Linked DNA regions of Homo sapiens: all the other regions are reported to be linked to region 3. The links are microRNA targets in miRTarBase. Many come from high-throughput screens and were not tested one by one. Region 3 holds a microRNA gene; each other region holds the end of a gene's coding sequence.

The links. Region 3 holds the annotated microRNA hsa-miR-3135b (GGCUGGAGCGAGUGCAGUGGUG, at 2,471-2,492, opposite strand). A microRNA usually pairs through its seed, bases 2 to 8, with sites in the 3' UTR of a target mRNA and lowers its output. Matches are read on the target gene's strand: a 7mer-m8 pairs with bases 2 to 8, a 7mer-A1 pairs with bases 2 to 7 and ends in A, and an 8mer does both.
Region 1: the mRNA of KRI1 is a reported target of hsa-miR-3135b. Seed matches in the 3' UTR shown: 7mer-m8 at 3,636-3,642.
Region 2: miRTarBase lists TDRD1 as a target of hsa-miR-3135b. Seed matches in the 3' UTR shown: 7mer-m8 at 1,946-1,952, 7mer-m8 at 3,932-3,938 and 7mer-m8 at 4,813-4,819.
Region 4: miRTarBase lists SUPT16H as a target of hsa-miR-3135b. Seed matches in the 3' UTR shown: 7mer-m8 at 1,489-1,495.
Region 5: the mRNA of ANKRD36 is a reported target of hsa-miR-3135b. The part of its 3' UTR that is shown has no 7-base or 8-base seed match.
Region 6: miRTarBase lists RFX7 as a target of hsa-miR-3135b. Seed matches in the 3' UTR shown: 7mer-A1 at 2,966-2,972.

What each region holds. Positions count from the first base shown.
Region 1 is chr19:10,549,986-10,554,985 of GRCh38, forward strand. It overlaps KRI1 (KRI1 homolog), which reads right to left. Exons shown (of 19, transcript NM_023008.5): 19 at 3,100-4,296. The coding sequence ends at 3,966. It overlaps ATG4D (autophagy related 4D cysteine peptidase), which reads left to right. Exons shown (of 10, transcript NM_032885.6): 7 at 1,912-1,990; 8 at 2,060-2,136; 9 at 2,220-2,339; 10 at 2,900-3,433. The coding sequence ends at 3,082. It overlaps MIR1238 (microRNA 1238), which reads left to right and starts at 2,137; the gene lies at 2,137-2,219. It also overlaps the pseudogene RNU7-140P. RefSeq lists enhancers at 4,095-4,264, 4,285-4,334, 4,365-4,444.
Region 2 is chr10:114,227,102-114,232,101 of GRCh38, forward strand. It overlaps TDRD1 (tudor domain containing 1), which reads left to right. Exons shown (of 25, transcript NM_001395205.1): 23 at 1-198; 24 at 809-855; 25 at 937-5,000. The coding sequence ends at 1,029. Among named protein-coding and RNA genes, the nearest start is that of VWA2, 9.7 kb to the right of the region's middle.
Region 3 is chr6:32,747,482-32,752,481 of GRCh38, forward strand. It overlaps MIR3135B (microRNA 3135b), which reads right to left and starts at 2,498; the gene lies at 2,431-2,498.
Region 4 is chr14:21,349,315-21,354,128 of GRCh38, reverse strand. SUPT16H (SPT16 homolog, facilitates chromatin remodeling subunit) reads left to right here. Exons shown (of 26, transcript NM_007192.4): 24 at 297-426; 25 at 564-641; 26 at 1,311-2,653. The coding sequence ends at 1,456. RPGRIP1 (RPGR interacting protein 1) reads right to left here. Exons shown (of 25, transcript NM_020366.4): 25 at 2,828-3,025. The coding sequence ends at 2,913. Among named protein-coding and RNA genes, the nearest start is that of SUPT16H, 32 kb to the left of the region's middle. RefSeq lists an enhancer at 946-2,145 and a silencer at 4,778-4,814.
Region 5 is chr2:97,249,025-97,254,024 of GRCh38, reverse strand. ANKRD36 (ankyrin repeat domain 36) reads right to left here. Exons shown (of 76, transcript NM_001354587.1): 73 at 4,811-4,881; 74 at 4,380-4,473; 75 at 3,852-3,881. The coding sequence ends at 3,858. Among named protein-coding and RNA genes, the nearest start is that of ANKRD36, 140 kb to the right of the region's middle.
Region 6 is chr15:56,089,355-56,094,354 of GRCh38, reverse strand. It overlaps RFX7 (regulatory factor X7), which reads left to right. Exons shown (of 10, transcript NM_022841.7): 10 at 1-5,000. The coding sequence ends at 1,010. Among named protein-coding and RNA genes, the nearest start is that of NEDD4, 98 kb to the right of the region's middle.

The sequences.
Region 1 (5,000 bases), not on the chromosome of region 3:
ACATAGTGAGACCCCCATCTCTACACAATTTTTTTTGAAAATATTCGAGTCTCACTCTCTTGCCCACGCTGGAGTGCAGTGACACCGTCTTGGCTCACTGCAACCTCCGCTTCCCAGGTTCAAGCAAATTTCCTGCCTCAGCCACCCAAGTAGCTGGGATTACAGGTGTATGCCACCACGCCCGGCTAATTTTTGTATTTTTAGCAGAGATGGGGTTTTCCCATGTTGGCCAGGCTGGTCTTGAACTCCCGACCTCAGGTGATCCACCCACCTCGGTCTCCCAAAGCGTTGGGATTACAGGCATGAGCCACTGCACCCAGCCTCTACACAACTTTAAAAAAACAGTAACCCAATGAAGGGCAGATGAGGGTAGCAGCAGAGCCTAGAAAAGCGCCTCTGCAGCCACCAGGCAAATGAGGAGCCAGAGGAGAAGTGCTCCAGGCAAAAGGAACAGCAAGACAGAGACCCTGAGGCTGGAAAGTCCCCTATGTATTTGCATCCGAATAAAAGCCAGTTTTCCCAGTGACCCACAGAGCCCGGCACTATTTGTCCACACCACCTTCTTGATGTCGGGATATCCCCCACCTTGACCTCATATCCTCCTCCCACACTCTGCTGCAGCCACAGGGGCCTCCTCACCTATTTCAGACACTCCCACCTCAGGGCCTTTGCGCTTGCTGCCCCTGCTGCTTGGAGCACTCTTTCAGCAGTGATGCATGTGGCTTTTTTTTTTTTTTTTTTTTTGAGACGGAGTCTTGCTCTGTCACTCAGGCTGGAGTGCAGTGGCATGATCTCAGCTCACTGCAAGCTCCACCTCCTGGGTTCATGCCATTCTCCTGCCTCAGCCTCCCGAGTAGCTGGGACTACAGGCGTCCGCCACCACTCCTGGCTAATTTTTGTATTTTTAATGGAGATGGGGTTTCATTGTGTTAATCAGGATGGTCTCGATCTCCTGACCTCGTGATCCTCCCGCTTCGGCCTCCCAAAGTACTGAGATTATGGACATGAGCCACTGCTTGGCTCCTGTTTTAAAATATTTTTTGCGTGGGGGGTTTTCCAGTGAGAACCAGAAAACCTGAGACAAATTCTAAAAGAGCTGTAATGTTTGACCTCTTTACTTAAAATCACAAGGCTCCCTTCCCTCTTTTATTCTTTTCCATATAGTTATCACCTCTAACACATGAGATAAATCATGTAATTGGCTGGGCGTGGTGGCCCACGCCTGTAATCCCAGCACTTTGGGAGGCAGGTGGATCACCTGAGGTCAGGAGTCCAAGACCAGTCTGGCCAACATGGTGAAACCTCGTCTCTACTAAAAATACAAAAATTAGCTGGGCGTGGTGGCGGGCGCCTGTAATCCCAGCTGCTCGGGAGGCTGAGGCAGGAGAACTGCTTGAACCCAGGAGATGGAGGTTTCGGTGAGCCAAGATCGTGCTACTGCACTCCAGCCTGTAATCCCAGCACTTTAGGAGGCCGAGACGGGCAGATCACCTGAGGTTAGGAGGAGTTCCAGACCAGCCTGGCTAACATGGTGAAACCCCATTTTTACTAAAAATACAAAAAATTAACCCGGGTGTGGTGGCGGGTGCCTGTAATCCCAGCTACTTGAGAAGCTGAGGCAGGAGAATCGCTTGAACTTAGGAGGCGGAGGTTGCGGTGAGCCAATTGGGCCACTGCACTCCAGGCTGGGTGACAGAGTGAGACTCCGTCTCAAAAAAAAAAAAAAAAAAAAAATTCATGTAATCATCTTCCTTGTTAGTCTCTCACACTAGGATGTCAGCTCCTGAGGGCAAGGGTTTTGTGGTCTTGATCACTGCTGCCCTCCAGAGGCTGGGTTCTCACAGAGGAGGTGTTTGCCAAGCGTTTGTTGAGTGGCTGCCTGACAGCACCTGCCTACCCTCCTCCCTGCAGGAACTCCTGCGTTGCGAGCTGTGCCTGGGCATCATGGGTGGGAAACCGCGACACTCACTGTACTTCATTGGCTACCAAGGTAGGCCCACCCCCTCCTCACTCCTCCCACCCCCCACCGCACCCCCACTCACACCTGCACCCCCTGCAGATGACTTCCTGCTGTACCTGGACCCTCACTACTGCCAGCCCACTGTGGATGTCAGCCAGGCCGACTTCCCCCTGGAGGTGAGTGGGAGCCCCAGTGTGTGGTTGGGGCCATGGCGGGTGGGCAGCCCAGCCTCTGAGCCTTCCTCGTCTGTCTGCCCCAGTCCTTCCACTGCACCTCGCCCCGCAAGATGGCCTTTGCCAAGATGGACCCAAGCTGTACCGTGGGCTTCTATGCTGGAGACAGGAAGGAGTTTGAGACACTCTGCTCAGAGCTGACCAGGGTGAGCAAGAGGAAAGCTGGAGTGGGGTGAGGGGGGCGGTTGGGCAGGGCTGGGGGTGAAAGAGGAACAGAGGCCTCGAGTCCAGCAGAGCTGGGGTGCTGCTTCCAGGCTAGGGGTCCTAACCTGGGAAATGTGAAGAATGTCCACCCCTGAAAAGGTGGGAACGCCAAAGCCCACTGTTAAGGCATCATCCCTTGGAGGCAGCTGTATCCAGGGGCTCAAGTGGTGGGAACCCTCCCTGTCTCTTGGCCCTGCTGTCCGACCAGGACTCTACCCTTATGGGGGCGAGAGATGGCCACCAGCCATTCTGGGCACCCACCCTGTGGTCACTGGAAGGGAAACGCAGGTTTTGCAGCAAAAATCCCAGGACTGTCAGTCTTTGGCTGAGCTGGGTCACATGCTCATGGCTGAGCCAATCACTGTGGCCAGGGGATGGAAGGTGCTGATTGGCTGCTCTCTCCTGGAGAGGTGGTCCTGAGAAGCACCTACTAAATAAACCTGGGCTAAGGAATATGGCTTGGCACTGTTTGTGGCTGACCCTGTCTCCCTCTTCCCGCCAGGTCCTCAGCTCCTCCTCAGCCACAGAGCGGTACCCCATGTTCACCCTGGCCGAGGGCCATGCTCAGGACCACAGCCTGGACGACCTCTGCTCCCAGCTCGCCCAGCCCACACTCCGGCTCCCTCGCACAGGGCGGCTCCTCAGGGCCAAACGCCCCAGCTCTGAGGACTTTGTGTTTTTATAAAGGGAGGGGATGAGGGGAAAGATACAACACTATTTATTTTTTTATTTATGTCATGTCGGGTGTGGGATCTTGAGCTCTGGCAGTGATGATGGTACTTCCTGTTGTCAGCCCCTCAAGCCCAGCTGCAACCAGTCTGGGGCCATTCAGCCAGGGACAGAGCCCACAGAGCCCATACACCTGTCTCCCACCAGCGGGGCCCTCCTGGCAGGGTAGGGAAGGAGGACCCCGGGCACCCCCCTCAGGGCCTGACTCACGTACTGTAGTTTGCACTGGACGCCCGGGCCCTCCCTGTCCCAAAGCCCCCTTGGGGGAACTGTGGCTGCTGGGGGCCAATAAAGCTGTGTAACTTGATCGTGGGTGTGGCTGGGCGCAGCGTTCTGAGGGGATGTGGGGTCTGGGAGGTGTCTCGAGGTGAGAGCTCCAAGTCACGGGAAGTTTAAGTCAGCCTCAGTTTCCACATCCATAAAATGGGACGACTTCCTTACCCACAGCTACACGTGTTTTTTAATTTTTTTTTTTTTTTCAAGAGACAGGGTCTTGCTTTGTTGCCCAGGCTGGAGTGCAGTGGTGCAATCATAGCTCTCTGTAGCCTCAAACTCATGGCCTTAAGTGATCTTCCTTCCCCAGCCTCCTGAGTAGCTGGGACTACAGGCATGTGTCACCACATTTTGTAGAGATGGAGTCTCGCTAAGTTGCCCACGCTGGTCTCCAATTCCTGGGCTCAAGTGATCCTTTCACCTCGGCCTCCCAAAGTGCTGGGATTACAGGCGTGCCTGGCCACAGATGAGAGGATCTCTGCAGCAGATAGTACTTGTGGGTGCGAGACCTGTCCAGGGCTTGATTTGAGGAGAGGAGCCTGAGGCCCCTGCCTGCTCCCTGGTGCTCAGGAGCTGTTCTTGGGCCCCTGTTGTTTCCTCCGCTGCCGGCCCAGCTGGCGGAAGTGCAGCCGTTTGGGGTTGAGGCCAAAGGCCTGCAGTCTCTGGCGGCTGAACTCGCATCCACCAAGCATCACAGTGGGGCCCAGCAGCCGTGCCTTCTTGGCCCTCCTCCGCTTCTGGGGGGCTGGCTTCTTGTGGGGTGATACAGGGGCTTCCTCTTCCTGTGCTGGGGGACTCTCCGGCCCCATCAAGCTGCCATCAAGGGCTGGCAGCTGCCTCTGTGGGCCGGCTTCATCTCTCTGTGGCTTCCCTGTGGCTTCCGCAGGTGTCTCTGCCCTGAGGGAGAAAAGTCAGGGCTCAGCCCAGGCCTGTCAAGATCAGGCCCATTCTTGAGCACGCATGCCCCATTTTACAGACAGGGAAAGGAGGGGCATAGTGAAGCAGCCGCACAGCGACCGAGGGCCTGCCTGGGATTCAGACCTGGGTTTCAGGCCAAAGCCAGCGCTTTTCTACGGAACCCAAAGACTAGATTGTGAGGCTGAGGATTCTGGTATTTGTGCCTGGGCCTGCCCTAAGCTAGTCACATCAATTAACTCATTTTAGCCTTTTTCTTCCTTAGAGACAAGGTCTTGCTGTGTCGCCCAGGCTGGAGTGCAGTCGCGTTACCATAGGTCACTGCAGCCTCCAACTCCTGGGCTCAAGCGATCTTCTCGCTTGAGTCTCCCAAAGTGCTGGGATTATAGGTTGGAGCACACACCTGGCCTCATTTTAGCTCTAAATAAACTGTGTGCATCTATCACCCCTGCCTTCTAGACTGGGCGAAAGCAATCCTAATAACAGCTAAGACCTATGGGGCATTTACCATATCTTAATCACTTTACGAGAATTAACTCATTTCATCCTCTGCAACTTGATAAGGCAGAACCGTCTCTATCTCCATCTTATGAGAAAGAGGCCCAGAGAGGGGTAGCGACTTGCCCAAGGTCACACAACGTTGGTGCCCATATAGGATTCGAACCCAGGTCTCAGAGCGGGGGGCG
Region 2 (5,000 bases), not on the chromosome of region 3:
AATTAATAATAATGCTATTAAAAAATTTCATGTTGAATCAGAATGTAATGCTTTCTGTGAAAGGAATTACAAAGAATGTCCATACAGTGTCAGTTGAGAAATGTTCTGAGAATGGGACTGTCGATGTAGCTGATAAGCTAGTGACATTTGGTCTGGCAAAAAACATCACACCTCAAAGGCAGAGTGCTTTAAATACAGGTATTCTTTTCAAGTGTTATTAATAACAGATGTTAAGTGTGAGGAATAACAGATAATCAATTTAGTTGACTTGACCTTTTCTCACTTCCCATGCCATACTCTCTCCTCCTCCTCCACAAATCCAGTGGCAGGGTTCTGATTCCTGTGGCTGCCTGGGAGGGCCGCCTTGATGGAGGCAGTCCTCCGAGTCCAGATAGTCCTTAGATCAGACTTGTCAGCACTGCTGTGGGAATTGACACCAAGAGCTTTGAAAATGCCAGGCATTCTGCGTGCTTCTTATTTCCAATTTACTTTCTATCCTGATCAAACTGAGAAGTCATATTTTTGAGATTCCATCTTCCTGGTACTTCATAAGATGTATATTTGACAGACCTGGCCTCAATCAAAAAGAGAGATGATTGACAACCAAAACCTTGGAGACATGGGTTGTTAATGTGGTCAAATCCAGACCATGGTAGTAGATAATCTCAAAGCCCAAATGGATCCATCCAGGTCTTTGTAGTCGGAACCCATGCGCAAGGGGGAGAGCTATCTGTATATGTTTACACTCCCAAGTTTTTCTTCTTTACATTATGTGTTATCTAATGGCTTATTTTTCTTGTGCTTTTAGAAAAGATGTATAGGATGAATTGCTGCTGCACAGAGTTACAGAAACAAGTAGGTAAAATTTCCTTTAAGTGAAATTATACTCCTAACGTTTTTAGAAATTAAATCATATGGTTTCTTTTTCACCCACAGGTTGAAAAACATGAACATATTCTTCTCTTCCTCTTAAACAATTCAACCAATCAAAATAAATTTATTGAAATGAAAAAACTGTTAAAAAGTTAAGTAAGTTAAATCGTATGTTTTCGCCTCTTCTGTGATCACCAATAGGACATCTTCAGGCATATTGGCAGGATAGAGCTAATGGAGTGAAACCTATTGTAAGGCTGTACTTTCGTGATTTAATGACCTGAGGTTTGGTCATAATGCTTCTGCTGTTTTTGTAGGTTTATCTGATCGTTTTCCTTTGCTACTGCTAATGGAACTGAACCCCCAGGGGTATTCCAGTTGTAATAGCCTTTCCTTACTGTTGTTTGGTTCTGTGAATGCCTATGTTATTGATATGTGGAGGGACTTGTAAAACTTGTTGTGACATAAAGCTTAGCCTCAGATTTTTTGTCTAGATCTGAAATTAACTCAGAGCTCACTTATGCACATTGCTGTAAATATGTTTAGCACTTTTTGCGAGGGGTATCTAAAGGGCCAAGAACGGAAAGTGGATCTAAAGGGCCAAGAACGGAAAGTGGGCTGCACTGAGGGTATTTTTCATTTAAAAACAAAACATACTCCCTGCTTTTGGCTGTGGTGATTCTAGTGTCTAAAGAACATACTGGTGAGTTTTAAACCAGTGTTCCTCCCCACCCCACCCCCATATTTTAAATGTCTGGGATCCTTTGTTGTAAGATGGTTCTCAGAAATAAATTTTTGATTAAGAGCCAATTAGAACTTCTGATCAGGGCTGGGGGTGGTGGCTCACGCCTGTAATCCCAGCACTTTGGGAGGCTGAGGCGGGCAGATCACCTGAGCCCAGGCGTTCGAAGTCAGCCTGGCCAAGATGGCGAAACACTGCCTCTACTTAAAATACAAAATTAGCTGGGCATGGTGGTGCACACCTGTTAACCCAGCTACTTGGGAGGCTGAGACAGGAGAATCGCTTGAATCCAGGAGGCGGCGGTTGCAGTGAGCCAAGACTGCTATTATACTCCAGCCTGGGTGACAGAGTGAGAGTTTGTCTCAAAAACAAAACAAAACAAAACAAAAAAAAAAACAACCTCTAATCTCAGAATAAAGTTGTCTCTCCTCACCACTTTGAGTTGTTACAGTTCCAGCCAAAAGCAAAGGAACTTTGATTTACTTAATATGTGCACTTTTGTTGGTTAACAAATTTATATTAAACTGTTTGGAAATAGTTCAAGAGGTGGCTATAATACTCTTCATGAATCTTTTATGGGTGTAGTAACTCTCAAGTAGGAACCAACTGCCAACTGTGTTAAAACATATCTTTCATGTGGTAATAGACCGTTTCTTTGCGTTTTAAGAAAGGTCAATTGAATTATAAGCTAAATGTAATTAATGCAAGATCAACTATCTTGACTCTCATGTTTCCTTTTACAAATTTTGGGTTATTACAACTTTCAGTCCTTTCTAATACATTGTCTTAATACTGACTGTTTTGTATGTTTAAGCTTAAAATCTTTTAATCTTTTTTTTTTTTTTTTTTGGAGACGGAGTCTTGCTCTGTCACCCAGGCTGGAGTGCAATGGCGTGATCTCGGCTCACTGCAAGCTCCACCTCCCAGGTTCACGCAATTCTCCCACATCAGCCTCCCAAGTAGCTGGGACTACAGGCGCACACTGCCACACCCGGCTAATCTTAAACTTAATGGTGATTTTAATTTCATAGATCAAGGAACATGCAATGACATGGATTTCTGGAATTTAGTCCTAGTATCAAGTCACTATATATATATATATTTTTTTTTTATTTTTTATTTTTATTTTTTTTTGAGACAGTCTCGCTCTGTTGTCCAGGCTGGAGTGCAGTGGCGCTATCTCAGCTCACTACAACCTCCGCCTCCCGGGTTCATGCCATTCTCCTGCCTCAGCTTCCCAAGTAGCTGGGACTATAGGTGCCCGCCACCACACCCAGCTAATCTTTTTGTATTTTTAGTAGAGACAGGGTTTCACCGTGTTAGCCAGGATGGTCTCGATCTCCTGACCTCGTGATCTGCCCTCCTCGGCCTCCCAAAGTGCTGGGATTACAGGCGTGAGCCACTGCGCCCGGCCACCAAGTCATTACATTTTTAACCAAGTTGGTTGGCCTGTATGTTCTTCTTATCTGTGTAACAGGCATTTTTCCTAAGGATATTGAGTGTGCTTACACATAAAACTTAAAGTGAAATTTCATTGTTTCTTGATAGATTTAAGACAGGGCTTAGTAGCTTTCAAAAGAAAACTTGATTTAAAGCATAGTAGTTGAACTGGATTTTTCCTGACTGTGGGAATAAATAGATATTTTATTTACATTTGAATACAGTGCAATACCTTGTGTTTGGGTAGTACGTATTTACAAAGCATTTTTACATCTACTCACATACTTAATCTTCACAATGCCCTTGAAAAGAAAGTAGGACCCATTTTACAGTTAAGGAAGCTGAGGCTCAGAGAGGGTTACATGACTGTCCAAAATCACATACAGGCTGAAACACTAGGTCTTACGACTTAAAACAGTTGTGTCAACTTCCCTGAGCTGCTACGTGTACAGTATCCTTTTAGATCAGATCAGTTACATAGGGCATGAAACTAGAGGGTTACATTATTAGGAAAAAATAATGTACATGATTGCTTAAGCATTACTTCATTGTGGTGAAAATAGAGCTGAATATTTACTCCTTTAAATTATTCTTTGAGATAGAATGGGTGTAAAAATGTATTTTGGCTGGGCATGGTGGCTCAGGCCTGTAATCCCAGCACTTTTGGGAGGCTGAGGAGGGCAGGTCACATGAGGCCCAGGAGTTTGAGACCATCCTGGCCAACATGGTGAAACTTTGTCTCTACCAAAAAAAATATAGAATTAGCCAGGTGAGGTGGCGTGCACCTGTAGTCCCAGCTACTGGGGAGGCTGAGGCAGGAGAATTGCTTGAACCCAGGAGCCGAAGGTTGCAGTGAGCCGAGATGGCACCACTGCACTCCAGCTTGGGCAACAGAGTGAGACCCTGTCTCAAAAAAATAAAATAAAAGACAAACACATGTATTTCATCATCTGGAGAAATTTAATTGTTAGCAATTTAATTGTAAAATTGCTAAAACAGAAGTGCTGTGGTGATATGAACATAAAACCCTCTGTAATCTGTTGCTCAGGTGATGTTTCAACACACAAGTTAATGTCAGATATCTTTTATATATAAGGAGAGTGCAAACAACTATATGTTATATTTGTGAAGGGGAGTATAAACAGCTGTACTTAGCATATATTATGCTATGTTATGGTGGTCATTAATTTTCTTAACTGACAGGTCTGGCTTAAATGCGTAATTTCAGTTAAAAGTGAATATTTTGTTTGCTTGTATTTGAAATTAAAAGCCATAGCAATTGAGTTTTTGTGTAAGGCATAATGATAGTTGATTTTTTTTCTTTTTCAGAAACAGCATCTCTTGGAGGTAAACCCTTATGAGACAGGAAACAGCAAAGGCTAGCTTTAGGAGAGAAAGTACAGCACCTGGTGTTTTTATTTATGAGAACCTTTTCTTTGTCCACTTTCTCTGTAATGACCTTCTATCCCTCCGTTTTTGCCTGCCTGCCATTCTCCTATTAGGTTGGTGGTTTTTATTTTCCTCTAAGTTCCTTCCACCAAATAAATATTACGTAAAAAATTCATACCAAATCAATGAGAATACTGGCAAGGAATACATAGGGACTTTCTGCTATATATGTAACTTTTTATTACTTAAAGGTACCGAAGGAAGGCCAGGTGCAGTGGCTCACGCCCAGCACTTTGGGAGGCTGAGGTGGGAGGATCCCTTGAGGCCAGGAGTTCAAGGTTACAGTGAGCTATGATAGTGCCACTGCACTCCAGCCTGGGTGACAGATTTTGTCTTAAAAAAAAAAAAAAAAAAGTTGATATGAGTTTTATTTTCTGTCCGTTTGAAATATTTTGTAATATTCCCTGCATTCTCTGTCGTCTGCCTCTTCCACATAATGTCCTTTGCTTTCATGTTTGTTATCTTCTTTTTCTGTTCACTCAGAGGTCATCAATTT
Region 3 (5,000 bases):
TTTGGGAGGCCAAAGTGGGCAGATCACTTGTGGTCAGGACTTCGAGACCAGCCTGGCCAACGTGGTTACACCCTGTCTCTACTAAAAATACAAAAATTAGCTGGGCATGGTGCTGGGCACCTGTAATCCCAGCTACTCAGGAGGCTGAAGCAGGAAAATCGCTTGAACCTGGGAGGTGGAGGTTGCAATAAGATTGTGCCACTGCACTCCAGCCTGGGCAACAGAATGAAACTCCATCTCAAAAATAAATAAATACATATAAATAAATTTTTTAAAAAAGAAAAATATTAAAATAAGGCAATAATATAAGGGGGTATCTGAAAAGGAACAAATGCTTGTTCCTTACTTAGGGTTAGTGACAATGGAAAACAGATAGAAGTAGAAGCTACAGACCCATTTAGGGGCCCCAGCCCCCTGCTCCTCCCCCTTCCTGGCTAAGGAAAGCATGAGCCTATGAGAGAGAAATCCTAGGAAGAACAAGACAGTTGAGACAATGTAGCAGCAGTAGTGGGTGCTGTGTCCTACACTGGATTCGTGGTCTCCTAATAGAAAATCTCTCAGAGGAAATGGGTCCACAGGGACCTGAGAGCTCTAAACAGCTATGAAATCTGCCAGGATATTTCTGTCCATGCTATCTGCATCAGTGAGTTTAAAATGTAATAGGAGAAAAAAAAGAGACAAAACATTAACATAATAATTGATACAGCATAGTTTTGTACAAAGAAACCTAAATCCAAATACTTGACTCAGTATTTTGAAGCTAGTATTTTAAACTTTACTGGGTAAAGTATCTGATTGACATTTCTGAACCTTATTTTTCTCATCCACAATGTGGGAGTGATAATATTTTCCTTGCAGAGTTATTGACAGAATTTGAATAATCTTGGTATATAGACAGTGCCTTACACGTAGTATATAAATATATAAGAAAACACTGCAGTTATGTTTATAATGGATTTATTAAAAAGAATGGATCATATTATATGAAAAGTACATTTGTTTTCCTTAGCCCTTTAGTGATTTAGGAGATTCAAGCGTAGACGTAAAAGTGAGTTTCTTTTCATATGTTAACTGGAGGATTTTTTTCTTTCTTGAGAGGCTGAGATTGGGTTGCTAAGAGAACTCTTAGGACAAGAAGTTGTAATATTTGACTTCGGTTTTTAACTCTCTAAGGGGTATATTCCCTCCTTATGTCCCATAAATTTTAAGTCAAGGTGAATTATATGCAACAGCAGTTTATCCATATTTACTTTGGGGAGGAGGTGGGGAGACTCCGGGAGAAAATAATTATAAATGCAGACTGGGAATTAGTAAGTGCAGGGAATCTGAACCAGTGGTGATCATGAAAACGTCCATCACAGAACACAGAGGATTTTTAGGGCAATGAAACTACTCTATTTGATACCACAATGGTGAATAAATATCATTATGCGCTTGCCCAAATCCATAGAATGTACAACACCAAGAATGAACCTTAATATAAACTATGGACTTTGGGTGATAATGATGTGTCAGTGTAAGTTCATAAGTTGTAGCAAATGTACCTCTGTCATGAAGGATGTTACTAGTGGGGGAGGCTATGCATGTGTGGGAACAGAGAGCATATGGGATACATCTATCTGTACTCTACAATTTTTCTGGGAACCTAAAACTTCTCTAAAATAAACTCTATTAAAAAAAAAGAAAAGAAAAGGTCAACAATAATGATCCCAAATATATAAAATTAAAACTGTAGTATAAAAATGGTCACATGAAAATGCATGAATGTGCTAAGAACTTTTCTGCAATAGGATTTAAAATAAATTTTATATAAATTTCAATGATTCATGAGCCAAGAACCCAGCATTCTGGAGGTGTGTGCATTTGTGTGTGTGTGTGTGTGTGTGTGTGTGTGTGTGTGTGTGTAAGGCTTACATTGAATGGCATTATAACCAGAGTCATACAGAAATACACAAATGCTCCCCTATTTAGAATCCTTCCCCAAGAAATACTGAGGAAAGCAAATATAATGGTAGTTGGATTTTACTGAAAGAATGTATTCAAAAAGTATTTATATAATGTTAAAATAGCATAGCTAAAATTAGTTTTATAAAATAGAGCAAATATATCTTTTTATCAGCTAAAAGTTCAAAGTGAAATCATCATTATTATATTATTATATTATTATTATAAACAGTTATAAATCAGGCTGCATGATTTTAAATTAAATGATTCTTAAAAATTGTTATCTGAATTATTTCAGATTACATACATAAAGTATGACTTCATTAATAGGTAATATCACATTGTTTAAATTTTACAAAATTTCCAGTCACAATGGTTCATGCCTGTAATCTCAGCACAAGGTGAGGGTCCCTTAAAGCCCAGGAGATGGAGACCAGTCTGTAGTCCCAGCTAGTAGGGAGGCTGAGGCAGGAGGATTGCTGCTTGAGCCCAGGAGTTCGAGGCTGCAGTGAGCTAGGACTGACTGCACCACTGCACTCGCTCCAGCCTGGGCAACACAGCGAGACCCCGTCTCTAAAAATAAATAAATAAATGAATAAATAAATAAAAATTACAAAACGTAAAAATCACGTAAAATATTTCAGGTTTGTACTTACCACATACAAACTAGAGATATGAAGAATTAAACATTACAAATAAAGCACTTCACACACAGTCTGGCCCATAGTAAGCAGTTTATAGAAGTTAACAAATTTGTGTTATTGTTATTTTCTGGAGTCCAAGACAAAATCCCATGATGAATGACACCACAAGGATGTAAGCAACAAAATTCAGAATATGAGAAGTTCTACTAGATTAAATAAAAAGATTTCTCCAGCAAACAATTTGCAAAAAAAGTTAAAAATAGAGAAAAGAAAAGCTATACACTTGAAAAAGACTGAAGAAATATAGTAACCAAACGCTGAGCTTTGTCTAGATTCATATTCAAACAAAACATCTGTTAAAAAATTTATATGAGGCAATCAGAAAAATTGACACTGAGTGTATTAAGGAATTATTTATCTCGTTTTAAATGTGTTAGTGGCATTGCTGTTATGTTTCTAAAAAGCCATTATATTTTAGATTTTCATAATAAAAATGTATAAATGAAATATGATACCTAAAAATATCTTCAAAATAATCCAGTATGTGCCTGTATGATAACTGGGTGGGTTTACAAAATTGCTCATGAATTGATTATTGTTAAAGCAAGGCTGTTGATACATGGAATTCTTCTCTGTACTATTGCACACAGTTGAAATTTTCTGTAATACAAAGGTTTTTTTTTTAAATGTATTCAGGAAAGTCCCATAAACATAGGCAGACAAGCATTCTGTTTGAAGTTATGTTAGTTTTTCAGTTTTTCTCATTTTTATCACATTTAGGAAACCCTGTCCAAGGCCTGCCCAAGACTGTAAGAACCTCTCAGGAATGCAACTATAAAGAATGTGTATGCAGGAACTAATAATAACAAAGGAAAGCAAAGTAATGCTTGCTTTATTATTGGCTGGACTAAGCCCCCAGACTTGTTTATATATTCACTAATTCATCAAAAATGCAAAAATGGTCATTGAGTACCAGTGCTACAATAAGTACTCATAGTTTGTTGAATGTTATTAAAATAATGTGAAAACAATTACATTCATTATCTTCATAGAACTTACACTCCAGTGGGAGGAAAATACATATATTACATAATTCCACAAACATAGTTACAAGGTCTGAAACATTTATAAAGAAAAAGAATGAGGTAAAATGAGAGAGTGTTGCACAGGGACCAGGTATGGTTTGGGGCAGTTTAGAAGTGGCTTGAAGAAATGTATCTTGAGATGAAATAAGGTGGTATACAGTAGGTAAAGGACAAGGTTGAAGAGGCCAGAGCAAATGTTTGAGAAACTCTTACAATATGAAAGAGAAGATGAGAATAAAATAACATGAAAATTATCACAGATTTAATAGAGAAAGTTCATGTAACAGCAAACAAGTTTAAAGTCATTCTAATTAGAATTCTTGATCTGTAAAAGTAATAATAGAATGCTAAAAACAATTGGAAAATTTAATAGAAAGATTGGAAAATTAAATCAAGAAAATCTCACAGTAATTTAAAAGGCAAAAAAAAAATGTAATATATGGTAGAAAAAATAAGATGGAGAACAGACCAAGGAAGTCAAACATCAAGTGACAAAGCTAGAGAGACCAACAGGGAAGATGAAGGGAGAAAATGATCAGAACAAATAATAAGGGAAAATGTTCCAGATATAAAGGATTTAATTCTTCCATGGAATAGTCTTGTCAGGTATTTAGCAAAATTAACAGACTCACTTCTAAATATCTCATTTTCAAAATTTCAGAACTTCAGGTGTTATAGAAAAGTCATAAAATATTCCAGTGGCGGAAACCAAAATGAAACAAACTGACAACAAAAAAAATACTTCTATTATTAAGATAATGAGAAAGTCCTTGAAGTTCTAAAGGAAAATTATTTTTTATTAATAAATGTAGATCTTTTCAAAGTCACAATCAGGCATGGAGAAAGAATAAAAATACCTGTGAATGTGAAAGAACATAAAATTTACCTACCACGCAGAGTTTTACTAGAAATTGACTAAGGATATGACCAATTGAGATTGTTAATCAGGATATAGGAAGGTAAGGAATCCAGGAAACTGGGTCTAACCCAGGATCTCACTGAAAACGGATCCTACTACAGCAGTTTCTTGGCAAGCAAAGAATACCTGACTACATAAGTGATATTTAGAAAGTGATAAACTTTTTTTTTTCAAATTTAGAATTAATCTGTGAGCAAAGCCCAAGGAATCTTATTGCTACAGCAGAATGTCAATATTTTCAGCTTTGACAATATTGGGGGGAAAAAAAAGATGTAGATACTTCATTATGGCAACTGGAAGTGTAAAGGAGAGGGGAAAGGGAGGGTGAAAATGCCAATAACTTCATCTTCCAAGAAGGAGGGGAAGAGGCATTGCCCATACTTACAGAAGTCACAAAGATCAATATAT
Region 4 (4,814 bases), not on the chromosome of region 3:
GATCCACTTAACGTTTGTGTGATACGTAAATACAGAAAGTCTTTCTGTTGTTAATTTCCCTGGGTGAGGAAGGCTAACGTGAATTTTTCAGAAATGTAATAATACATAATAATAGTAAAATAATAATTGCACCTGACCACTAATTTTAAACAAGTCATTTTATCTCTTGATCCCTCAGATTATTTTGCTCTTGTTTTCTTCATGTAAATACTGGTATACTATGTGGGCTGAATTAATTCATTAAGTTAATAAGGTAAATGTCAAAAAAAAATCAGTATTATGCTCTAACTCACCAGGGGAGTGATGCTGAAGAAGGGGATTCAGAGTCTGAAATTGAAGATGAGACTTTTAATCCTTCAGAAGATGACTATGAAGAGGAAGAGGAGGACAGTGATGAAGATTATTCATCAGAAGCAGAAGAGTCAGGTTAGTCTTACAGAGCAAAGTTCGTCCTGGCTTCCTAATCTAATGTCATTTCTGAAAACTACTTTTTTTAGACTAAGAACTCTGTCGTTCCATTCTGTTCCCGCATGATGACTAACGCTTAATTAATTTTCTTCCAGACTATTCTAAGGAGTCATTGGGTAGTGAAGAAGAGAGTGGAAAGGATTGGGATGAACTGGAGGAAGAAGCCCGAAAAGGTTTTTAAAAATGTGTTGTTTTTTATTCATTTGTCTACGCACAAATTTCTAACACATTTCAATATTTTGAGGTGTTAGTATTGATGGCGTAATGAAAGTAACAAAAGAACACTATAAAAGTGCTTTGGAGCCACAGATACAACTTCATTGACTGAAGGAGAAAATGAGGTGTGGAATGTGTCCATACTCTCCAGTGGGCAGTGCTCTGCCAAACTGGATGCTGTTTTCATCTGCGCAAGCCCCCATCTTTCCTATAGCCATGATAGCCACATATTCATGTAATACTCAAGAATTAGCCTACTCAGTTTCCAAACCTAAATCCTATAATACTTTAATTTTCTAGGCTTCTTCCAGGTTAGGCATGTCTTTATAATGCTAATCTAGTTACTCTGAAGCCAAACCCCAAACAAACGTTTTAAAGCTTAAAAGGAAATAAATATTAACTGCTGTGTTCCAAGCATTGGGAATAGGTAGTTTTCATAGGTTACCTTATTTAACCCTTAAATAATTCTCCCTTTTGTAAATAAACCAAGGTTCAGAAAGTACTTGCCCAATATTAAAACTTGGGTCTGATTCCAAAGTGTATTCTCTGTACTATCTCATGCTATCCAGTAATATTAGGTACCTAAAGCTTACCTATTGCTAACTAATAATGCCTCTTCTATTTAGCGGACCGAGAAAGTCGTTACGAGGAAGAAGAAGAACAAAGTCGAAGTATGAGCCGGAAGAGGAAGGCATCTGTGCACAGTTCGGGCCGTGGCTCTAACCGTGGTTCCAGACACAGCTCTGCACCCCCCAAGAAAAAGAGGAAGTAACTTCTGAACTTTGGCCCTGAGCTCCATTCTTCCTCCAGCCAACCCCTGAAAATTTTACATGACATAGAAACTGTATTTTTCCTTTCGTTTTCATTTGAAGTTTTGCCATTTGTGTTTATGGGTTTAGGGGGCCATTTGTGTGGACCAATCTACTCGGGGAATTCCAGGCCCACCAGGACACGTGCCAATGGCCCCATTCAGATGGCAAGGGAGGAGGTGTTCTTGAAGACAGGAGGAGGCTCCCGCTGTTAATAAATATTGTTTCATTCTTCTCTCTTCCTGTCACCTTCTGCCAAGACATTGATGGCTTCTGACATCTTATTTGGTGTCTCAAAGCTGTATTTCCAAGACAGTGGTACAAGGTGACCCTTAATTACCCGTATCATGGTTCTTGACCAGCACATTCAATCCTCCAACCTACCCTACTGCCATGACCTTCCGCACATCTCTAAGTTTTATCTTTGCAATACTCAAGGTTCTCGGAAATTTGCTAATGGTTGTGATAAACCATACAGCTTGAGCCAGTGAGGCAGATTGGGCTGGTGCCTTCGTCTGAGTTTTCCTGCTTTCCTGCCTCGTGCAGATTCTGAGGTATATCTGCTGCCTTGGAAGACATAAGAAGCAGTGATACTCCCTGGCTCGGTTATTTTCTCCATACAATGCACACATGGTACAATGATAGAAGGCAAAATTGCCACTGTCTTCTTTTTTTTCTCATATATCTAAGGAAGATATATCAGGTTGTGCCTCATGTACCGCTTCTAGTGAAATGTAGAGGAAGGCTCAAAGGAGTCAACATTTATATCTGGAAGGGACAAGTCATGCCTTGGGCCTAGAATACCCTGATGAGAAAAGAGAAGAGGAAGGGAGGCCATATCTACAACACAGCCTCTCGGCACTGCTGCTCCTTATTTTAACTTTGTCTTGCATTGTCCTGTATTTATCACAGTTTCTGTTGAACAGCTTTTCAAGTATTTGGGGAGTTTATCTTGCCATCCTCCCCTTCTGGTTCTCTGCACCCACCTGTCCCACTGCAGTTCCTTCCGTGCTCTGTGACTTTAAGAGAAGAAGGGGGGAGGGGTCCCGGATTTTATGTTTGTTTGTTTTTTCTCCTTAGCAGTAGGACTTGATATTTTCAATTTTGGAAGAACTAAAAGATGAATAAACTGGGTTTTTTTTGTTGTTTGTTTTTGTAAATTCACCTGTGACCGTTCATTTTCAGTTCTTGAAAGCAAGCCTGCTTCCTGCCTGGTAAAGTGCTAAGGTACTGGAGAAAAATGCCTTTAGCTAGCTAGTTTTACAAATGAAACTTTCATCATTCTAAACTTTCATCATTAGATTGAGAGACACTAGACATCACAGTAAACCAAATTCATGTTATAGCAAGCTAACTTTATAAGAGACTTTTTACTATGGTTCCCTCAGAGACTTTTAGATTGGAATAGCACTTGTTCCTTCATGAAAACAAATCTTCAGTCATCTCCTTGTAAATAGCATGGAGGACAGCAGCTGCTTGAAGGGAAACCTTCAGCCTTCCTATTGGGGTAGCCAGATCTTCAGGGCTAACAACTGTTGGGAAAGGGAAAAAAACAGCATCACTCAGTTGAACACTTTGATACTTGGTATTTGTCAGGTTAGGTACTGGGGATGCTAAATGAATGAAATTACCCATTTCATAAGAGGACTCAATCTAGTGAAGGAGAAAGGAAAATGGTATAGTGTATAGGTGCTATATAATAAATGGAAGCACAAGTTGCTTTGGGGACATAACGAGGCATCTGCACCAGAATGGACAAATTGGAAAGGATTTCTGGAGAAATCACCAGAAAAGTCTTAAGTGGATTTTCCCTGTGCACATACAAATGGCATGGAGGTCAGGAAGAACATAGCATGTTTAGGAATGGGGATAGGAGTGAGTTGGAAAATAGCCCACAAAGATAACGTCACTTGCCTTATGCCAGGCACTACCCTAAGCCCCTTAATCCCTTATTTAAGTGCTTCCTTAATCTTCACAACTCAGTAAGATAGAGACTGCTGTTATTCCCGTTTTATAGATGAGGAAAAAGACTAAGGATCACAGTTGGAAAGATACTAGAGGAATATAATTAGAATCTTATCTAACATTTGAACTTTGTAAACCTTAGGGTCTGAGGAGTATTCCTCAAAAAATGTTTATAATGATCAGTAAGAATAATTTTATACCATGATTCATTAAACAATACATAAAACAAGTTTCACAAGACAATATGTGCTATGTACTCTTAATTCCTGTTTTCTTTTTTTTTTTTTTTTTTTTGGAGACAGAGTCTTGTTCTGTCACCCAGGCTGGAGTGCGGTGACTTGATCTCAGCTCACTGCAACCTCCGCCTCCCGGGTTCAAGCAATTCTGCCTCATCCTTCCGAGTAGCTGGGATTACAGGTGTCCGCCGCCATGCCTGGCTAATTTTTTTTGTATTTTTAGTAGAGATGGGGTTTCACCATATTGGCCAGGCTGGTCTCGAACTCCTGACCTCAGGTGATCCGCCCATCTCGGCATCCCAAAGTGCTGGGATTACAGGCATGAGCCACCTCGCCTGGCCTTTAATTCCTGTTTTCTTTCCCACAGTTTTGGTTTGCATTTTTCAAATTTCCTTGTGATTTACTAATTCAGTTTCACATCCACTAATGGGGTGTGTGTCTGGAAGTTTGAAAAACATTGATCTAGTGGATAATCTTAAGTGTCTGAAGGTCCTAGCAGATAAGATAGGTGACATCCCAGCTATGTAAGGTAATGGGAACAGTGAAGACTGGACAGCGCAGTCCCAACTAAAGGTACTCAAATACAAATGTTTTTAAAACATGCTGATCTATAGCAAACTGTAAAAGGATTTAAGAAGAAGGCAGTGATCAAATGTATTATGTATTTACTATAGTAGATGGAAATGGGGTAGAAGAAACCGGTGGCAGGAAGACCAGTTTAGAAATTATATGGCTGGGCGCGGTGGCTCACGCCTGTAATCCCAGCACTTTGGGAGGCTGAGTGGAGGGCGAATCACATGAGGTTGGGAGTTCGAGACCAGCCTGACCAACATGAAGAAACCCCATCTCTACTAAATATACAAAATTAGCTGGGCGTGGTGGTTCATGCCTGTAATCCCAGCTACTAGGGAGGCTGAGGCAGGAAAATCGCTTGATTAAGAAAGAGGCAGAGGTTGTGGTGAGCTGAGATCGGTCCATTGCACTCCAGCCTGGGCAACAAGAGCAAGACTCCATCTCAAAAAAAAAAAAAAAAAAGAAAGAAATTATAGTAATTATATTTAAGGAGGCCGGGCGCAGTGGTTTATGCCTGTAATGCCAACACTTTGGGAGGCAAAAGAGG
Region 5 (5,000 bases), not on the chromosome of region 3:
ACATTATTCCTCCTAAAGCTGATTTAGAAACTATGGCTTAATGTTGACCAAAAAAGACTTCTAATATTGCCCCCTAGCCTTGACTTTAGAACCTGAACAAAAAAAAGTTCATCTGAAGAACAGTCAGTTACCCACCCAGTGCAGGGAGGGTCTTCACCTGCCTTCCAAGTCTCCTGTTCAGAATCCAGAGGAGAAAGAGAGACTAGATGTACTCATTGATCACTGAGTAAGTTTGCCTTACTAATAGGCAAACGTGGACCAATGGATTTGATGGGACCAATGGATAAGATTTCCCATCCACCAAATAAGTCACATCTTCTCCTGGCTCTGGGAATGAGCCAGATAAAGGTGAAGAGTTGGCAGTGTTTCTACTCAATATTTGTGAGAAGACCGAAGGTGTTGTCAATGGGTAGATAGAACTGGAATGAGGTGGGAAAGTTTTACTCGTTTGACCAACTTCTTTTTATTCAAGTTGTATATGCTGAAGGTAGCCGCTAGAAGAATTGACTTCTGGAAAGATGATTCCCCTCACAATTGCTTGATCTTGAGTATTTTTATTTTTGTGTTAAAGAACTGATGTTGGTTTGTGTACACTGAAATAATGGGGGGAAGCTCTGTATGGAAGGAAAAGAAAGTTTCCTTTCTTTTCTAGAGCCGTCTGTTCAGGTTATCGGAGTCTCCCTATTCATGGGATGAGTGTCCACAACAAACTCCACAATCCTGTGTCTGCTCATTGAAGGTATGTATCAGAGTGACACTTGGAAGCATGGTATAAAGAGGAAATATGCATTTGTCAAATGAAAAATTAAAATATAAGAAAAAGTTTAAAAGGAAAAACAGAATGAGAAGGGCAGGGGCTTGATTAGAGTTTTGTCAACTGGGACAAACTTTGCAGTTTTAGTCAAATATTGCCATCTTTCTAGTGGAAGACTTTGACATGTAAGTTCTAGATTATACTTTCATTTATAAATAACTGTGTAGCTTAATGAGATGGCCCCTGTTAGTATCTTAGGCCATCTATTGAAGGTTTACTAAATTCTTCCAAGGCACGTGAGTCTGCTCCTCAGCAAAGCAGTGACAAACCTGCTTTTCCCTGGTTTCCCCAACTATGTAAAACCTTATTAAAGAATTCCTGAACAATATAAAGTTCCCTCAGCAAGACGGAACTTCCCAAGCTCTTGTCTCAGGAGAGAATGTGGATTATAGAAAGATTGTGGGTGTGAGTGGAGTGGGAAGTTATTTAGGTAGTAAGATTTTCAGGCTCGGTGCAGTGGCTCACACCTGTAATCCCAGCACTTTGGGTGGCCGAGGTGGGCAGATCACAAGGTCAGGAGATGGAGACCATCCTGGCTAACAGGGAGAAACTCCATCTCTACTAAAAATACAAAAAAAAACTAGCTGGGCACCTGTAGTCGCAGCTACTCGGGAGGTTGAGGCAGGAGAACCGCGTGAACCCAGAAGGCGGAGCTTGCAGTGAGCCAAGATCTCGCCACTGCACTGCAGCCTGGGTGACAGAGCCAGACTCCGTCTCAAAAAAAAAATAATAAAAAAATAAAAAGTTAAAGAGGCCAAGAAACATCATTTAAAACACGATATAAATTTTCATCAGACATAAAAGATAAAAAATATTTTCATTTAATAAATACTTTTGCATGTCACACATTTAACGGGAAACAAAATATCATGTTAACAGCCTAGTAATACAATTTTATTGTCTTAGATTTTTTTCGTCAGCATGTATTCTTTCTGTTTTGTTTTGCATTTGAGATGGAGTCACTCTGTTGCTCAGGCTGGAGTGCAGTGGCACGATCTTGGCTCACTGAAACCTCTGCCTCCCGGGTTCAAGTGATTCTCCCACCTCAGCCTCCCGAGTAGCTGAGACTACAGGCATGCACCACCACACCCAGCTAATTTTTGTATTTTTAGTAGAGACAGGATTTCACCATATTGGCCAGGCTGGTCTTGAACTCCTGACCTCAAGTGATCCACCTGCACTGGCCTCCCAAAGTGCTGAGAATACAGGCATGAGCCACTGCAGCCAGACAGCACATATTCTTGTTATGCTTTTAAAACTAGTTATTGATTTAAATTTTACTCATTAGTAGATTCTAGTGCAGAAGCTATAGAGCAGCAGTCCCCAGCCTTTTTGGCACCAGGCAGCAGTTTTGTGAAAGATAATTTTTCCACAGATGGGGGTTTGGGGGATGGTTTCAGGATGGTGATTCAAGCGTATTACATCTATTGTGCACTTTATTCCTATTATGACTACATTGTAATACATAATGAAATAATTACACAACTCATCATAATGGAGAATCAATGGGAGTCCTGAGCTTGTTTTTCTGTAACTAGATGGTCCCATCGTGAAGAGATAGGAGACAATGACATATCATCAGGCATTAGAGTCTCATAAGGAGCATGTGACCTAGATCCCTTGAACGAGCAGTTCACAGTAGGATTTTCACTCCTGTGAGAATCTAATGGCTTTGCTGATCTGACAGGAGGCAGAGCTCAGGTGATAATGTGAGCAACAGGGAGTGGCTGGAAATACAGATGAAGCTTCACTCGCTTGCCTGCCACTCACCTCCTGCTGTGCAGCCTGCTTCCTAACAGGTCATGGAACTGTGTGTGGCCTGGGAGTTGGGGACCCCTGCTATAGAGGATTCAGATTTAAATTCAGAAGTTAGAATGAAAAAGAATTATATTCTTTATCTAAATGATTTCACAGTTAACTAAGAGAAAGTCAGTATATGCTGAAAAGCTTATCAGTGTTAATAAGAATGAAAAATATGTACAATATGCAATTACTATTAAATATAATTTGCCCATAGTTGCACACCGAATTCATTATCATGGCAGTTAAGTATCAGAGCTTCTGGTTTCTCACTCTTCGTTCATGTATTCAGCAACCATGTGCTAAGGTACTAGGACAAGCACTGGAATTACAAGATAAAGATGATACGGTCCGCCCCTCAACAACTGTATGCTATAATCTGAAAAAACAAACAGGCAATTCCCATACAGAGTCATACATACAATGACAAGCATAAGACAGCACTTATTGGAAGACATAGAAGGGATACTAGCCCAGGTTTGTGTCAATATTGTAGGCTTTTTGGTAGAGGCAATTCATAGGTTGATATCTGAAGGGGAAGGAAAACACATGTAGGATAGAGGGAAGAAGTAAATGCAAACAGCTGGAGGTGAAGACGATCACTGTGGAGCTCCATGTAGTCTAGTTTGGCTGGATGCTAGAACAAAGGTGTAGAGTATGGTAAGTGGCGAAAGATAAGGCTGAATAACTTGACAAGAACCACACTGATGTGAGAGTTTTGATTCCATGCTAAGGAATTTTCAACTTTTCCCAGGGGCAAAAGTAAACCAATGACAAAGTCAATGACTAGAGATTTAAAATGTCACTGGTCAAGTGACTGCTTGTGACCTGTAATTGCTTAACTAATTATTATCACATGAGTGTGGGGTCTGTTAGCCTTAAATCACTACCTTAACCTTGAGAAGTTGATAATGCCTTTGTTTTGTGAGAACAGTTTCAGTGTGCAGGCTGATAGTCTATAGGGGTGGCAGAAGAAAAGTGTAGGGCCAGAAAAAAAGGGATACACAGATTTCTTGCGATTTTTTTAAAGCTATGAAACATGATGAATTAACAAAGCATAAGTATACCCTTCACTATGAATGTTTATGTTTTCACATCTTTCACTAGATGTGTGTAAGAAAAAATATTTAATGTAGCATTTATTAACCAAGCAATTGAGAGGGAATACCGTTCACTACTTAGAGTTTATTTCAGAAATCAATGATTTGAATTTAATTCATAAATTTTGGCAACATACCTTCATCTAGCTCTCAAACACCTGCAGCATCTGAAATAAATCAAATATTACTTATAATGTTTCAGTCAAACAAGAGACATTATCATGTAAACCCACTGTAAGTCAAGGAGCATCTGTACTGTAGATTGATCATCCCTAATCTAAAAATCTGAAATCCAAAATGCTCTACAATCTGAAACTTTTTGAGCACGGACATGACACCACAACTGCAACGTTCCACACCTGACCTCATGTGACAGGCTCTGGGGAAAACAGTAAAAACTTTCTTACCTGCAAAAAATTACTGTAAAACATTGTAGAGAATTACCTTCAGGCTATGTGCATAAGGTATATATGAAACACAAATGAATTTCATGTTTAGACTCAGGTACCATCCGCAAGATATTTCATTAGGTATATACAAATATTCCAAAATCTGAAAAAAATCTACTTTTGGTCCCAAGCATTTTGGACAAGGGATATTTAACCCATCCTACTGGAAAAATAAAATTCCTTTTCAGTATGACAGAAATTAAGAGATCAGCTTACCAAACTTGAATGCTGCAGGATTTTCTCAAGCCGCTCAATTTGGTCATCCTGTTTTTTAATAATTTTTCTCATCATCACATGTTCTACTTCAAGCCTAAAATGTGCATTTTAAAATAATTACTCTCACACGTAATTTTTTTTAAATCATGTAAATTCTAAACAAACTTCTGAAGGTATAATTACACAAATTCTTAGCAATCACAAAAGTAGACGATTGGGCTACTGTGTCATTTTCTACCTGTGTTTTGGTGATAATATGCAAAATTTAGGAATAATGTAGAAAAATGATGTATTTCGATATAGCTTACAAATGAAACTTTTTTGGCTTCACAAAGACATACTAATTATCATAACTGATACAATTTTCATACTACAGTGCTCTTTTGCTTTATAAATACTCAAGTTATTTTGTGTGCTGCTTCAAATTTTACTTTTGTGTGTCGCCTTCCATCTCCTTAGTACATCTTATAGTAGCTGTAAGTTGATCCTGTATTTCTTGAAACTGAAACAAAGAATTTTAAAAAATTACATTTGGAAATGACCTAAATGTCCATCAGTAGATGAATGAATCAACAAAATATATATGAAATATTTTAGACTATCACAATCTTTTTTATTTAT
Region 6 (5,000 bases), not on the chromosome of region 3:
CTCCTGTGCAGCATCAAGGTGCCACTGTAAATAACACCAACAAACAGGAGGGTTTTGCAGTCCCTGCCCCTCTTGATAATAAAGGAACTAATTCATCTGCCAGCAGCAACTTCAGATGCCGGAGTGTGAGCCCTGCTGTTCATCGCCAACGTAATCTTAGTGGAAGCACCCTCTATCCAGTATCTAATATCCCACGATCTAATGTGACCCCCTTTGGAAGTCCAGTTACCCCAGAAGTTCATGTTTTCACAAATGTTCACACAGACGCATGTGCCAACAACATAGCTCAAAGAAGCCAATCAGTTCCATTGACAGTCATGATGCAGACAGCCTTCCCAAACGCTCTTCAGAAGCAAGCAAACAGTAAAAAAATAACCAATGTTTTGTTGAGTAAACTTGATTCCGACAATGATGATGCAGTGAGAGGTTTGGGAATGAACAACCTGCCCTCTAATTATACAGCCCGGATGAATCTCACTCAGATTTTGGAACCTTCCACTGTTTTTCCTAGTGCCAACCCACAAAATATGATCGATTCCAGCACTTCTGTTTATGAGTTCCAAACACCATCTTACCTCACCAAAAGTAATAGCACCGGTCAGATCAATTTTTCTCCTGGAGATAATCAAGCACAATCAGAAATTGGAGAGCAACAATTAGATTTCAATAGCACTGTTAAAGACCTGTTGAGTGGAGACAGCTTGCAAACCAACCAGCAGCTGGTAGGTCAGGGAGCATCTGATCTCACTAATACTGCATCTGATTTCTCTAGCGATATCAGGTTGTCTTCTGAGCTCTCAGGCAGCATCAATGATTTGAACACTTTAGACCCAAATCTACTGTTTGATCCAGGTCGTCAGCAGGGACAAGATGATGAAGCTACACTGGAAGAATTAAAGAATGACCCATTATTTCAACAAATTTGCAGTGAATCCATGAATTCTATGACTTCATCAGGTTTTGAATGGATAGAAAGCAAGGACCATCCTACTGTTGAAATGTTGGGTTAAATTGTGTTTTATAACATGTAGCACACTGTATCTAAAGACATATGTATTGTATTTGTCTTAATGGAAGTGCCTCCCGCAGCAGAAATACTATTAATTGTGACATTTTAAAAGCGTTTGCTGCAGAAGTGGTTTCTTCAGTAGGAAATGGTTAGACTTGCCTCAGTTCTTAACAAGTGTCTAAAGACAGTAGGCTGTAGAAGAACAAGTATTAGGTTTTAAATTTTATAATGTGCCCCATTTATTCACATTGATTGACTATCCAGCTGTTACAAGAGCAGTCGATCTTTATTTTGTGTAAGTTAGTTTCATTTCATCAGATGATCTGCACAGAACTCAGAATAAACCATCAATTTTAGGTATAGGCTGTTTTGTTGTTGGCATTATCTTTTAGATATAAAATCATAGCTAGGGTGAACTGTAGACAAGAAAGTCTTCCTTGAAACAGGGATAATATTCAGGTTATTATAAATATTTAGGCTTGAAGCATAGAGCTACTGTAGGGTGAAAAATCTCTGTAGGACTTTCTGGGGCTTCAGTACCATTTACACCCACGATGAAGGGCTTAAATAGAAAATAATGGAAAATTAAATATTACTTTAAGGAAAGCAAAGCTGCACTAAAATTTTTAAGGGAAAAAAAACAAGTAGCCATTTATATTTGTGACCTTGCATTAATATTTAAATGTTGATTTTAATATGGAGCTAGCACACATAGATGCGCAGGCACGCACACACAAAACAAGCAAATGTAACTCCAGGCATTTGTAATTTAATATAATAAATACAAGCATGTTAGAAAAATGCTTTATGTCTTATTATTTGTTAAGTTAGGGGAATGAGAAGGAAAACAAAAGCATTCTCTTAGTTTCATCACAATGGCTGCATGTACATATTGAGATTCTAACTGAGATTTACTTTGAAATTTTTCATTAAAATATTCCACAATAATCAGTTTTTTTCCTCTTCAATTGAGTGACTGACTCCCTCACTCCTCCTGAATATAGTAATGTAGTTTGATCATAGGATCCCTTTGAAAAACAGGAAGGAGGATAACATAAAAAACAACAAAAAACATTTCACCACCTAAGGTCTGAAGCCACAAATCTTTATATCTCTGATGAAACAAAGGGGATATCAATAGTACTTGAAGAAGAAGAGCATTTTATTACTTGCTTAATTTATTTATTGTGATAACCACAATTGCAAAAGAAGAACTCAGGATTTGTTTTAAAATGTTTCTCTCTATGGCTCCCATTTTGTTTTGTGAATAATTATTTATGAGTTGCATGTTGACACAAACCTACTCACTGGTTGAAAGCTCCATTTAAGTGAGTTTCAAGATCACTTTCAAAGAGATTTTTAAATTGCCATTGTTTTTAAAGCTAACATAAAACCATTTGCTATGCTACCTTGAACCTAGCTAAGCTTTCCTTTACCTTAGTAAGCCAATCAGAAGACTACAATCAATGAATATTTAGCAAATGTGCTGAAGGGTTTAATAAGGTTTTGTTGTTCAATAAATTTGCAAGGTAGGGTATTAACATATTTTGATAAATAAATGGTGCTAGAGTTGGCGCAGAGGTTTATATATTGATATGTCTTAGTTATTGGCATTTGTGTGTGTTTGCTGTTATCTTGATTTCATGATTTGTTAGGTATTTTTTTCTTGATGCTAGTTATTTCTTCACTGTACATTGAGACACAGCACTACTGCACACCAAAGTATGCAATACCCAAAGGAAACTGTGTGATTTCTCCTGACAAATGATGGGAGCCTTTCTTTATGAGATACTCTGAAAAGGAGATTTTGAGGCCATTCTAATCCCTTGTTTACATTATTAGCTTCCTACTAATATAAAAATAATGGAAATCTTTTTTGATAAAAATATTAAGACTGGAGGATTTTTAACCCCTTGTACAGTATTGCAGCAAACTCTTTAAATTTGGTTGAATTCGTCCAGCAAACTTTCTGGGGTTCATATATTGCACTAAATTTGTTGAACCTGTGGTAGGCACATCTCTTAGGATAAATGCAACCAATACAGTCCACAGATTAAACTTTTTAAATGTGTTTCATTATGAAAAGACAAAATGTCATCAAAGTGACAGATAAAATTGTCTTATGTAGCAATGTGCATTGATCTCAATGAGATATTTCTATTATTCTCTTACATGAGAATATTACAGCAGGAAGAATTAAGTTTAGTTTGCTTCACCATGTTAATACATGATCACAAAATGTGCATGAGTGTTATTGACTTATCTTGTACAGTACTAGGATTCCTGTAACCACTCTTTTTTTTCTTCGCTGTATTGAAACTGGTTCAGTGTTAACCAGGCAAGCATAGTTATTCACAGGTTATTTACTTTATGTTTACTAATTCTGCTTAGTTATTGTTGAATATGTTCTGTTCCAGATTATTTTTATTGTTTTGATGTTTAAAACATTTTGCATACTGTTTATCATAAAACTTCATGAAGTAAATAATTTTGCATATAATTGCAATAAGCACTGACTTTTGAACTGAAAAGAAGGAAAGTGTTTTTTTGTGCAGTGCTTCTGAGGTTCATATAATAGTCTTGTACTATAATGTGCTTTACTACACGATAAATGACAAAAACAAGCCCTGTTTCATGTTTCATTTAGTGCAAAAAGTCAGATTTCCCCAGTGTTTTGTTGTCTGTTGTACCTGCTGAAACTACAGTAGTTGAATATTGCGGTAGCATTTCAGTTCTCTTTTTTTATTAAAGTGCTCAAAAATTGTTTTTTAAATGTTTTCAAAAACAATTAAAAACATTTTATATTAAACTGACTGGATCTGAAGGTGTTTTATGGGACATATTTTATATAGGCAACACATTTTGTAAACAGACCCAATGTTATTCTTCCTTTGATGTCATTAACTTTAGGGAGTGAATAAAAATGAGCAGAAGGCAGAACAGTGCTGCTGATCTGCTGTGTGCTATTAATCCAGAAGAATACACAGATCTTAGTTCATTCATCAAAACTCTGTTGTTCACTTAAGATTATTACCAATGAATGGTGCATGGCATAGAACTTTATGTTGTCCAAAAAGCCATCTTTTTCTCTTTCACATAGTGTTTAAATGTTAGCCTATGGAGTACCTAGGTAAGTATATTTCTGGAGCTCTGAATAGAAAATGAGAAAATTTTAAGCATAGCTGTGTTCAAAAGCAGTATAGACATTTCCAGGTACCAGAAATAACAAACTGATAAGTGTAATGAATTTGTAAGCCAGAAGCTGGGCTACAGGTCTGGAAGCAGGCCGAAGTAGCCAGAAATGTCAGCTCCTGCAAAGTAATGAAACCAGGGTCTTGAATGGAGTTTCCTCACTCTTGAAACTGAGAAGCAACAACAACCAGTGCCAGGGACTATATATTGTAGACAGATCTTCTCAAACAGCCTACTCCTCTGTTTACATAGATCTTTGTAGATCTGTGATAGTTCCACTATCACCATAGATCTGGAGCCCTCAGTTTGAACAGGTGGTAGAAGCAATTACAAAAGGAAAGGAGTGGAGATTAGGAAGGGAGAGGTAAAGAGCAGGAAGGCTCCCATGAAAGCTGAGCCTGCAGATCAAAATTCAAAAGTACTTGAAGAAAAACTAATCCCAAGAAAGGCAATCAGTCACTCAAGAGAAAATGAAAGTAATGAACTACCTAGATAATACTATAAAATTAGTATGTTAGGATCCTCAGTGCTCAATGACATGGAAGGGTAAAATGTCAGAGCAGGCAAACATAAGAACCAGTGCATAGAGTCAACCAGTAAGAAATTCTGGGGGTGAAAATACTGTGTAACACCTGAGGTGATTTTGGTTTCAAGTAATTGAAAACCCAACACTGGCTTAAACCATAAGGACACTTACTTTTAGCTTAATAATAGTGGAGATAGGAGGTTCAAGGGTTCATTCAATGGTTCATTGTTTACAGGCACCAGATCCTGTTTGTGTTTCTGTTCCATCATCTTC